Homo sapiens: one gene and its partner. The protein of the gene in region 2 interacts with the protein of the main gene of each other region in a pairwise test. Each region holds a gene or a part of one and is shown on either strand. Other genes may lie near its edges.

What was found.
Region 1: the proteins of DEFB112 (region 2) and VWC2L interact in a two-hybrid assay, tested with the Homo sapiens proteins (one large-scale study listed by BioGRID).

What each region holds. Positions count from the first base shown.
Region 1 is NC_000002.12:214,413,447-214,418,970, reverse strand, and holds part of VWC2L (von Willebrand factor C domain-containing protein 2-like isoform 1 precursor), read right to left. Parts: intron 4,858-5,524; 5' UTR 4,778-4,857; coding exon 4,388-4,777; intron 1-4,387.
Region 2 is NC_000006.12:50,043,109-50,048,366, reverse strand, and holds part of DEFB112 (beta-defensin 112 precursor), read left to right. Parts: intron 1-4,565; coding exon 4,566-4,792; 3' UTR 4,793-5,258.

The DNA of each region.
Region 1 (5,524 bases), on a different chromosome or scaffold from region 2:
GTACAGCTAAAACACTGGGTAGTCATTGCGATGCTGGGATGGAGACAGAATCCAAGACAACCCTTGGTGAGGAAGGGGTTGAGAGAGGAAGAAAGTAAAGGCAGGACGAAAATAGGCAGTCTTATCATAAGAGAACAATGTGTGCCATTTTAACTGCCCAAAGAGCATTTTTTGTCTCAACTTTCAGTGCTTCTTTAATTAAAATGAAGAGATCAACACATAAACAGAAACTAAATCATTCTAAAGAAATTCTAACTTCTTTATCCTATAGGTTTGATTACAATTTGACCTGGTATGCTATTCATCAAAAAAGGTATTAAATGACTGTTACATAGCTCACACGGTGTTGGGAATAGAGGGGAAAAGAAAAAAGAAAACAGTGTCGCTAGCCTCGAAGGGTTCAATGACTAATGGAAGAGACGAGTGGTTTCATATGATATTATTTCATATTATATTTTACATGATTTAATATTATTGCAGTGTGATGTATTACATTATTGCTGTGGGGTAGATCACTAGAAGTGGTGAGGAGCTTAGATTCTGCAGTCAAGCTGCCTGGCTTGGAGTCCTACTTTTTCCTCTTTCCAGCTGTATGGTCTTGGACAAGTTACTTACACTCTGCTGCTTCAGTTTTCTTATCCGTAAAACAGTGCTAATAAAAGTATAATTCTCACAGTGTTATTGTAAAATAAAATGTGTTATAATATACATAAAGCTCTTCACAGTATCAGACAACAGTTACTGTTCTTGTAGTGATGGTGTGTATAGCAGGCCGTGGGAACATACGGAAGGAGTGATACAGTGTGGGAGATATGAGGTAGGACAGACAGAGAGGGGTTTCCAGTTGAGGTGAGATTTAAATGGAGCCTTGAAGTGGTCCAGTAGGATTTAAACAGGGAGCAATGTTGAAAAAGTGTTCCATACTGTGGAACAGCAGTGCAAACACACAGGGAAAAAAAGCCACCAAGAGTTTGAGGGATTTGGAGAGGTTGATGAGTAGAATCTAGGCTACAGCAGGGAAATTAGATTTTACCCTGAAAACTGTCCTGAATGTCTTTGTGCTTGTGCACCTCATTCTCTTTTTTTCTGCAACAGACTTCCTTCCTCCACTATTAATTTCTCTTTACTTCTATTCAATTCTGTGCTTGGATATAGGACATTCATTTTTATTTATGTTTAACTAGGTCATCTATGTACAGAACAATCCGCATTTTATTTCCTATTATTCTTCAGATGAATCTAAATATTTTGGCCCAGTATTCAAGGCCCTTCCATCCACTCTCCACCGACACATATCTGAATTTGCCTCTTACTAGGATAGCATTTTAGTCATATCTAGCTTCCAATTATACCCATCTCCCTCCTCTTTGCAGACTGTATTCATCCCAATCTCTGATTTTGCTCTGGCAGTTTCGTCTTTGGAATTTCAGTCTTCCCAGATCAATTTCAAGTACTTCTTGAAGAACAGGCAGCTCTACAAGATGTATAGGGTTAGCATCCTGAAGACAAATCTCTTGCTTAACCAAGCCTCATACTATTTTGATAAGCTTCTGCCATCACAATCTCTTGGGAGTTATATTGGGATTTCATAATCATATACTTAACTTTTACCTGCTTTTTCCCCCTTCTCTCTTCACATCGATCATGTCTTTCTTGTGAGCAGAGATTTTGGTTTCTAGATATCCTACTTTCAATTGTAAGTACGTCTACAGTATCTTATCTACTGAACGGTCTGATAAATGCTTGTTGGATGAATATATTTATGTGAAGATTATCTCATAATACAACCTCCCTAATTGACATATCAACATTATTATATGAAAGTTTTATGCATCTTTAATAATTAATGACTTGTTCCTTGCAAGCTGAGTTGGAAGAGAATCAAGATGACAGATTATGGCTAATATTTACTTAGAGTTGTATGGTTCATAGGGATAAGTAGAGCATTTTAAAAAGGTATGAGAATTCTTCATTTGAAAGTCTTTTAAAGTTGAACTTTCATTATAAAATGTAGGCAAAGCCATAGAGGAATTTAGAATTTAGAGTAAATCCCTGGATATTAGAGTTAAGAAGGAGGGGACAATCATTTATTTAATACCTATTGTGTACCCGTCATCACAAGGTTAGTGACTTCAGAGAAATTATATGTTATTAAGAATTTCCAACCTCTCCTCCTAAGGAAAGTGATTATTACAATGGCTATTTTATGGTCAATACCACTATGGATCAAAAAGTTTAAGAACTCCATTCAAAAATTTATATCCAAGTGATGAATTTGGGATTCGAATCCAAGTCTATCTGACCTTAGTGACAAACTGCTTTGAGAGATCATATAGTATGTTAGAATGGCAGCATTTAGAATTAAGATAAATAACTTGACAATTTTGGATAAGTAATTTATACTTTTTTGGTCTCAGTTTCTCATTCTGACACATTTGCCCTATATAGTCTCTAAAACTCTTTATGACTCTAAATTCTTGTTAAAAAAAGTGATATCTATTATTTTAAAAATCACATCAAAAATTTTATGACACAAAAAGCCAGGTGAAAAAGCTGTGCATATTAATGGATCATACATTAGGAAAGAAGTAGTAGGGATTAATTAGATTATAGTAGGGTTATAACGAGAAGGGGTACAGAAATTATTAACTTTTTCTTTAAATACCTCTATATTGTTTGACATGGTAACATAGTTATTATCTTTGTAGTAAAATCTAATAAATAGAGGGAAAACTATAGCATTTTCAATAGTGAGTTAAGTTAGACAATATTTTCTTTATTAAATACAGATTACCAAATTATATAAATCTCAGAAACTTATGTTTTTATTTGTGCTAGTTATGAAACGCTGTTCCTACAATACCCTTTTGTATTCTAGTCTAGATATAAATGCAGGTTAGAAAAGGGTGATATGACTGCTAGAATCAAGTGTGTTGAGTACTTCTACTTACTTCCATTAAGATGACATTAAAAATAGGTAATGTCAAAATATATACAATATTTTAGAGATCATAAAACCATTAATAAATGTACTCTACTCTCAACTATTATTTGGTGTCAACAATGATACTTTTACTAGACTCTCATGCTTTTACTTCTTAATTTTGTGCAATAAAATAATACACGAAAGACAAAAGTCGAGAATAACATGTCTAAGGAAGTTGAATGTCACAATTAAAATTTCCCTTTTGTCCTAAGGAATCTAGTTCCAATGACTGGGTATTCTTGGGTAAATCAGAACTGGCTTGAACCGCTAACCTGGTTCATTCCAGGTTAATAATGAACTAAATACAATTAACTATGAATACACAGATTATGCTAATGATGATCAGTTGAGACCTTTTTTCTACATACTGATTTCTGGCACCATTTGACCCTTGTGGTGAGAGAAGTTGGGTCAGTGCTAATAATGGAAATGTCTTCTCTCATACATAAACACCCACACTGAAAACTAGCTATATCTGCTTTTACCTCTAAGGTTCTGAGCACCTCATCACAGAACTTGGTTAGATGAAATGGGAACATTTTATATAAAGCCATCAGTATGACAGACACTCCAGGCACAAACTGCCATTACATTTAAGGTGGACATTTTTCATGTATTCATACCTTCAGGGTTCAGATCAGGCTTGTAGGATATCCCAATTAAAACTAGCCATTGGGGAAAAGAAAGTTCAATAAGGGATAAAAATGAACTCTAAGCTACTTTGAAAATATGACGCAAGCGTAAAAGAAAAACTAAAAAATACCAGGTAGGCTGAAAAAAATTACAGTCTTTTTTACTACTCTTTACATGGATTGTGATAAAAATTCAGTTCTCTGTGGAATCCTGAAAGCAAAAAATCCAGCGAGCAGAGAACAGAATGGGGATCTTGCTTGACCACAAGTAGGCCCAATGCATTTTCTTAATATGAGGACCACAGCTAAGAAGTATATCTCTGTAGCTTTTCCACACAATAAACAAATAATTCTAGACTATATTGTTAAATGACTTCAAATACAGGCTAATAAGCAACACACAAAACTGACACAATTAAAAAATTAATTTAGGAGACACATACACTATACACAAAATTGTTCCCATCAGAAAACATATTTTGTAATAACAGAGAAGAAATGTTTAAGGGCAAAAATAAAAGGTGTTAGGTATGCCCCAAATACTTCTGGGAAAAAAAATAAAGGTTATTGTGCAACTTAACAAATATGATCAACAAACCAGTTGGCCATTTGTTGACCATGGTGCTACTTATGGTAATTAGAATCAAATTGTATAATTTAAAGGGAAATTTTAAAGTACATTTTTCCAACTCTGACTTTAATGTAGCAATGTACTAAGCACGTGGTATGAAAAGTTGATATTTCAATAAATATGGAGGGTAACGCATACCTTAAATTCCTCCAAGATTTTGTAATTTTTCCCGTGATATTCACAGAAGTTTTTTACTTCTTTGCACTCAGGACAGCATCCATTGTGTTCCACTTTAGTACACTTTGGGTGAATTTTAGGGCATTCTGGTTGGTCGCAAACAGGTCCATCTAGAGCACAGACACATGGACAGTTGGAATGCCCAGGGAAAAATCGTTCTCCCAACTTGTATACAAAGCCGCTGTCATCGACACACCCTTTCCCTCGATAGTCATCAAAGATCAGATTGTCATTACTGGAGATCTGGTCACCTTCATCAGCAGGATAGTCTTCATGACTGATAGCAGCAGAGGTGACCAATCCAGGGATGACCAACAGAAGTATGCAAGCTTCATGAATATGAAGAGCCATCCCCCTCTTCAAAGACTTCTGGATGTGCTCCTAATATTAAATATACTCAGCTCCTTCCATGGGAATACAAGAGGGGTAGGCTGAAAATAAATATTTAAAAAGAATAATTTGACATATATAAAGTGAAGATAGATTCATTTAAGCCCACGCTCTTAAACTGTTTGGGATCAATTTGAAGATACTAAGTCCTCAAATAGACTAAGTTCATGCAACTATCTGTGCCTTATTGTGAGGTTTGGAGAGTTGATACTTGGCAATATATGCATTAAAATTTGTCCTTTTGGATTATTTTATATAGGAACCTTCAGCTTGAATTTTCCTTCTGAATTTCATAGGTCTGGCTTTATCTAAATTGCAAAGAAATGGTTTTACTGAGCCCCAAAATGTGATCCAAGGAGTAACTTACAAATAGCTCAAGAATATTTGAACTCACATTTTCTATTATTCTTTAAACTGGACTAGTCAGTGATGGAACATATGTTATAATTATCTGTGTCAACTCAAGAGATTAGTGAGAAAAAAATCTAATTCTAAAGGAAAGGGAATAAACCAACAGTTGAATATAAATTATATTTAGGAAGGAGCTACTATAAAGGATTTCCTACTTATTTATGCCCATAATTAAAGAACAACAATGGCGTCAACATCAGTTACCTGTTTAAGTGAATGTGAGTCTGGATTTTTGAAATAAAGTTGATAACAAAAACAACATAACTATTCCATAGTGATTAAGAGAAAGAAAATTTG
Region 2 (5,258 bases):
AGAAATCTTATTTTAAGGTTGTAGAGGCCGATTTTTTTGATAAAATGCTGGCTAGACAAATGTCCTTTTATCATTTCCATGAAGAAAGGTTTTCTAACCATTGTTCTCAGCAACATTATTACTTTTTAAAATGTTTTAATGTAATTGTGCTTAGGAATTATACTGTTGTCTCAGTTTCCCTCCTACTCAACAGCTGGACATATTTATTTTTTTTTTTTTGAGACGGAGTTTCACTCTTGTTGCCCAGGCTGGAGTGCAATGACACTATCTTGGATCACTGCAACCACCGTCTCCCGGGTTCAAGCAATTCTCCTGCTTCAGCCTCCGGAGTAGCTGGGATTACAGGCTCCCACCACCACGCCCCGCTAATTTTTTGTATTTTTAGTAGAGACAGGGTTTCACCATGTTGGCTAGGCTGGTAGCGAACTCCTGACCTGAGGTGATCTACCTGCCACGGCCTCCCAAAATGCTGGGATTACAGGTGTGAGCCACCACGCCTGGCCAAGGCAAAACTATTTTTATCAATCACTACTGTTCAAAATACTGATATTTTTGGATATAAAAAGTATATTGTTATATGAAAAGAATGATAAAGGTGTTCTGTTTATTTGAAAGCACGGTTTAATTAAGATAACTCAAAAAGGCAATTGAGCAACAAAAGTCTAGATAAGGGACTGGGAACTTAGTTTTAAAAGAATTCTTTTTGACTAAGTTTCACTGGATGTCAGCATGATGTTGGAATGGGACTTTTCAATGCTCCTTCCTTTACAGAATCACTAATTTGAACAATTATCCATGCACGAAAATGCCTTCACAAGAGCTAAGGAAACCAGGTGAGAGATTACAGCACTTGGGTAGATTACAGAAATAAGAAAAGACACATTAAAGAGGGTAGGAAAGATAGTGTCACATTGCTCATGGACCTCTCTCCCAAGCCTAGATAGCACAGCCTGGAGACAGATACCCTCCCTGTGAAGGAAAGAGAGGGAAATGACCATAGAAATTAGCCTTGGACCCAACACTGGATGCCCTTTCTAAGTAGAACCCAGCACCGAGCAGGCCCCCATGGCCTCAGACTTCAGACCAGTACCTGAAGACTGAGCTTCCAAGTCTGCTCTGGCACCAGGCCGGATCTGACAGCCTCTGGCTCTAGGCCAGCCCATCAAGTCTCAGCTCACTGCCCCTCCAGGCCTGCCCAGTAGCCCTAGTGCTAGTTCAAGCCCCACAGACTCAGGCTAGGCCCAATAATCACACTCGGTTTCCAGAGTTTCTCTAGAGCTAGGCTGGCCCCAGTGTTCCTGGGCTCTGGATCCCCCCAACACCAAGCTGACCCCCAGGTTTCAGGCTTGTCCAAGAACAAGGTGAGCTCCACAGCCATAGTCATCAGGGAAGGACCTGTGGACTCAGCCCCGAGGCCAGCCTCGGTGGATACAGGCTCCAGGTTCACTCAGTACCTGGCCAGCTCATGTAACCCTAGGCTCACCTTTATTCCAAACCTATGTTTTAGGACCCATAGCCTTTAAAGGTTCTTCCCTCTTGTCCATTACACCACTTTACCAATCACTTCAATGGCAAAATTTCCTTCAGTTCTTGTATATCAGCTTAGTAGAGTCATAGAGTAGAATACAAACATTGCTACATATATAACTAGCAAAGGGCTTAAATCTAGAATATATTTTAAAATTCTAATAAATAAATAAGAAAATGCTAGGTAATTCAGCAGAAATATGAAAAAAAGACCTAAGCCACTTGAAAGAGTGAATAAACAACCTCTTTAAAGTGCTCATCCTCACTTGCAATCAAGAAAATGCTAATTTAAACCACGATAAACTACCACCATACATTCAACAGAACATTCAAAATTTGAAATCTATCCAACAGAAGATTATTCAATATGCTTCAAGAAACAGTACAAGAATGTTAAGAGCAGCCAAATTCTCCCTGTAGCAAATAACCTATATGATCATATAAAGTTTATTAGATAAAGTGAATGCTATGTATTAATGAAAATCAGTACTGCAAACTACATCCAACCACAAAGTTCAATTTTATGAATATAAATTTAAAAATCCAGAAACAAACAAACTGTATGATTCTCTCTAAGATACACACACACACACACACACACACACACACACACACACAGTGCTCCTCAATTCATGATGGAATTATGTCTTGATAAAGACATTTTGAGTTGAAAATATCATCAATTGAAAGTGGATTTAATACACCCTACTGGCAGAACATCATAGCTTAGCTTACCCTGGCTTAAACATGCTCAGAATACTTACATTAGCCTACAATTGGGCAAAATCATCTAACATAAAGAGTGTTTTATAATAAATTATTGAATATATCATGGAATGTGTTTGATAATGTACTAAAAGCATAAAACAGAATTGTTGTATGACTATTTGTAATATTGTATCCACTGAACGTATGTCTTTTTTGCACCATTCTGAGGATGAAAAATTGAGTCAAATTATTGTAATTCGGGGACTATCAGTATAAACAGTCATGTGCTGCAAAACAGTGTTTCAGTCTATGTTTAGATACATAAATACTTACCATTATGTTACAGTTGCCTAAAGTATTCAGTCCAGTAACAGGTGCCATTTTGTAGATCAGGAGTAATAGGCTATACCTTACAGCCTAGGTATGTGATAGGTTGTACCATCTAGATTTGTGTAAGTACAGTTTATGGTGTTCGCACAAGGACAGAATCACCTAATGGCACATTTCTCAAAACATATCCCTGTCCCTAAGTGACACCTGATTGTATACACATATGTACACATTTATTTGTATGTGTGTATATATATATTTGTGTGTATATCTAGATTTATACATATTTTATGTGTATACATGTTCAAAAGCAGGCATAAAAAATGCATAATTGAGGTATACAAATATTAATATAAAGCAAAGTAAGAAAGTTAGTGTTTAATTCAAGACAGTGATTACTCTTAGGGAAGAGGGAGGGGGTTATGATGTGGCATGAGGGTGTGAAGCTTCTAGTAATATCTTGTTTCTTGATGTAGGTAGTAATCTCATGGCTATTTCATTTACAGTGCTACATTAGGCTCTGCATTTATATTTTGTGTTCTTCTCTCAGAAGGAAATACCCCTTGTGATATGTTGCTTTGTGAACAGAACTATGCTGAGGCTAATCCAATTATGAAATGTACCTTTCATATCTCAGGGTAAATATGGGCTTGAAATATTATTATTACCATTATTCATATTACTATTACTATTTGCAAATAAAATACAATTATTAGCAAAGATAACTGCATAAAGTGCTGTCTCCTAGATGACTGAGTACACATCACTGCAAATCCAGAGTATGTTAAAAGGAATATCCTCTGATAGTGTAGTCTCAAAATCCTCAGTTATTTTAAATTCTTGCTGCAAAATTTGTGGGTAATATTACTACTTTATATAAAATGATATATATGTATTTTATTTAAAAAGATGGACACGAAAATGGTTAATTACAGAATAAAAAGGTTTTTGAGATGAAAGCATACTTACAGACATCAGTGATAAGGACTTGGTCATTTTTATCCACCTTCTGAAATATGTCCAGCAATGCATGCTTATATTAGTCGAGTAATGGTAGATATGTACTTCCTAAGACAGTCTCCTCCAGAATTTTTATTAAACTTTTTAATTAATTTAAAAATTATTATATAGATTCAAAACCTGGCTCTCCAGTGATATGTGCTATGTATCTGTGGAGATACAGAGAATAAATGAATATCTGCAACTACAGATCAGAACTTCTGTTAGTGACAGAGAGACCTTCTATCTAGGTACATACATCATTCCTTATACTTGTGGAAGTTACAAAGTCGAAGAAATTATGCTGTAAAGTGAGATTAGAGACATTTTTAAAAATTTTCTATAGCATTGGAAACTTCAGGATGAAAGAGAAAAATGGCAAAGTAGAACTAGAAAATTATGAGCCTTGCTGAAATGTTCACTATGTCCACAGCTTGTGGTTATTTACTATCTCCGTATTCTAATCACCCCAAAGTGTCTATTTTTTTAGCAAAACTTCTCTTGTGCTTGGCTCTAGGGTGCAAATCCAAGAGGAGATGAGATATTTAAGGAAAATAAAATTGTATCTTTCAATATTTTAGAACTGCTCAAGTCAGGTTAAAAAGAACAATGGAATCTTAAAAAGGAAGAGAACATTTACCACAGAACAGTACTAAGAATAAATAATAAATGAGAGGATGGAGATCGTCCCACTCATATCCAATGGTTCTAGTCAATGTACAAGACAGACAGAGGAAGATTAATACATTGCAAGCCCTTCAGAAATCCCTTATTGAGTCACTACAGAATTATTTAAACTGCATAAGAATGGAACCTCTACAGTTTAGGAACTGTATACTTGTTGGTTTCCTTGATTTTCTCTGATATGGACAAAAAAATTAAAGCAAATATCCATTTCCTTTATTTCTCCTCTGTTGTCTGTGATTACTCCCATGTCTTCTTTTAAATCTTGGGAGTTCCCACCTAGATTACTAATTCCAGCTGTTCTTGCCTTCTTTCAGCCAGAAGTGAAGGGCACCATATCACCTTTAGTAGGTGGAAGTCATGTACAGCGATTGGAGGTCGATGTAAAAATCAATGTGATGATAGTGAATTTAGGATTTCATACTGTGCAAGACCTACAACTCATTGCTGCGTGACAGAATGTGACCCTACGGACCCAAATAATTGGATCCCAAAGGACTCAGTAGGGACTCAAGAATGGTACCCTAAAGACTCACGTCATTGAAGAAATCCATGCACAAGAAGATGATACATCTGAATGAAGTCCTCTCATTATTTCATCACTTCATTAATGACCTATAATTTCCATGCATGCATACCTATAATGAATAAATAATTAAATAAAATATATTTCAGCTGGACATTTTTATAAACATTGTGCTTGCTTAGAAGAAAGAATCAGAATACAAAGCAGGGATTTGAACTCTGGAATAGAAGCAGCGTGGAGAAGAAAATCCATGATGGGACCGCTAAGTTTAGTGAGATTCTGGGGCCAATTCCTTATTTAGTGTGAAAAGCATATTATGAGTCATTAGTGAGGTATTATCAAGAATTCTTTGAGGAGACTCAGGAGTGGGGACAGAGTTGATAAGAGATGTGACCCCTGAACTAGTAAAAATCGTTGCAAGAAATTTGAAGGATTATGAAATCCTCATAACTTTCTCATATTGCTTATACTTCCTGGTTATACT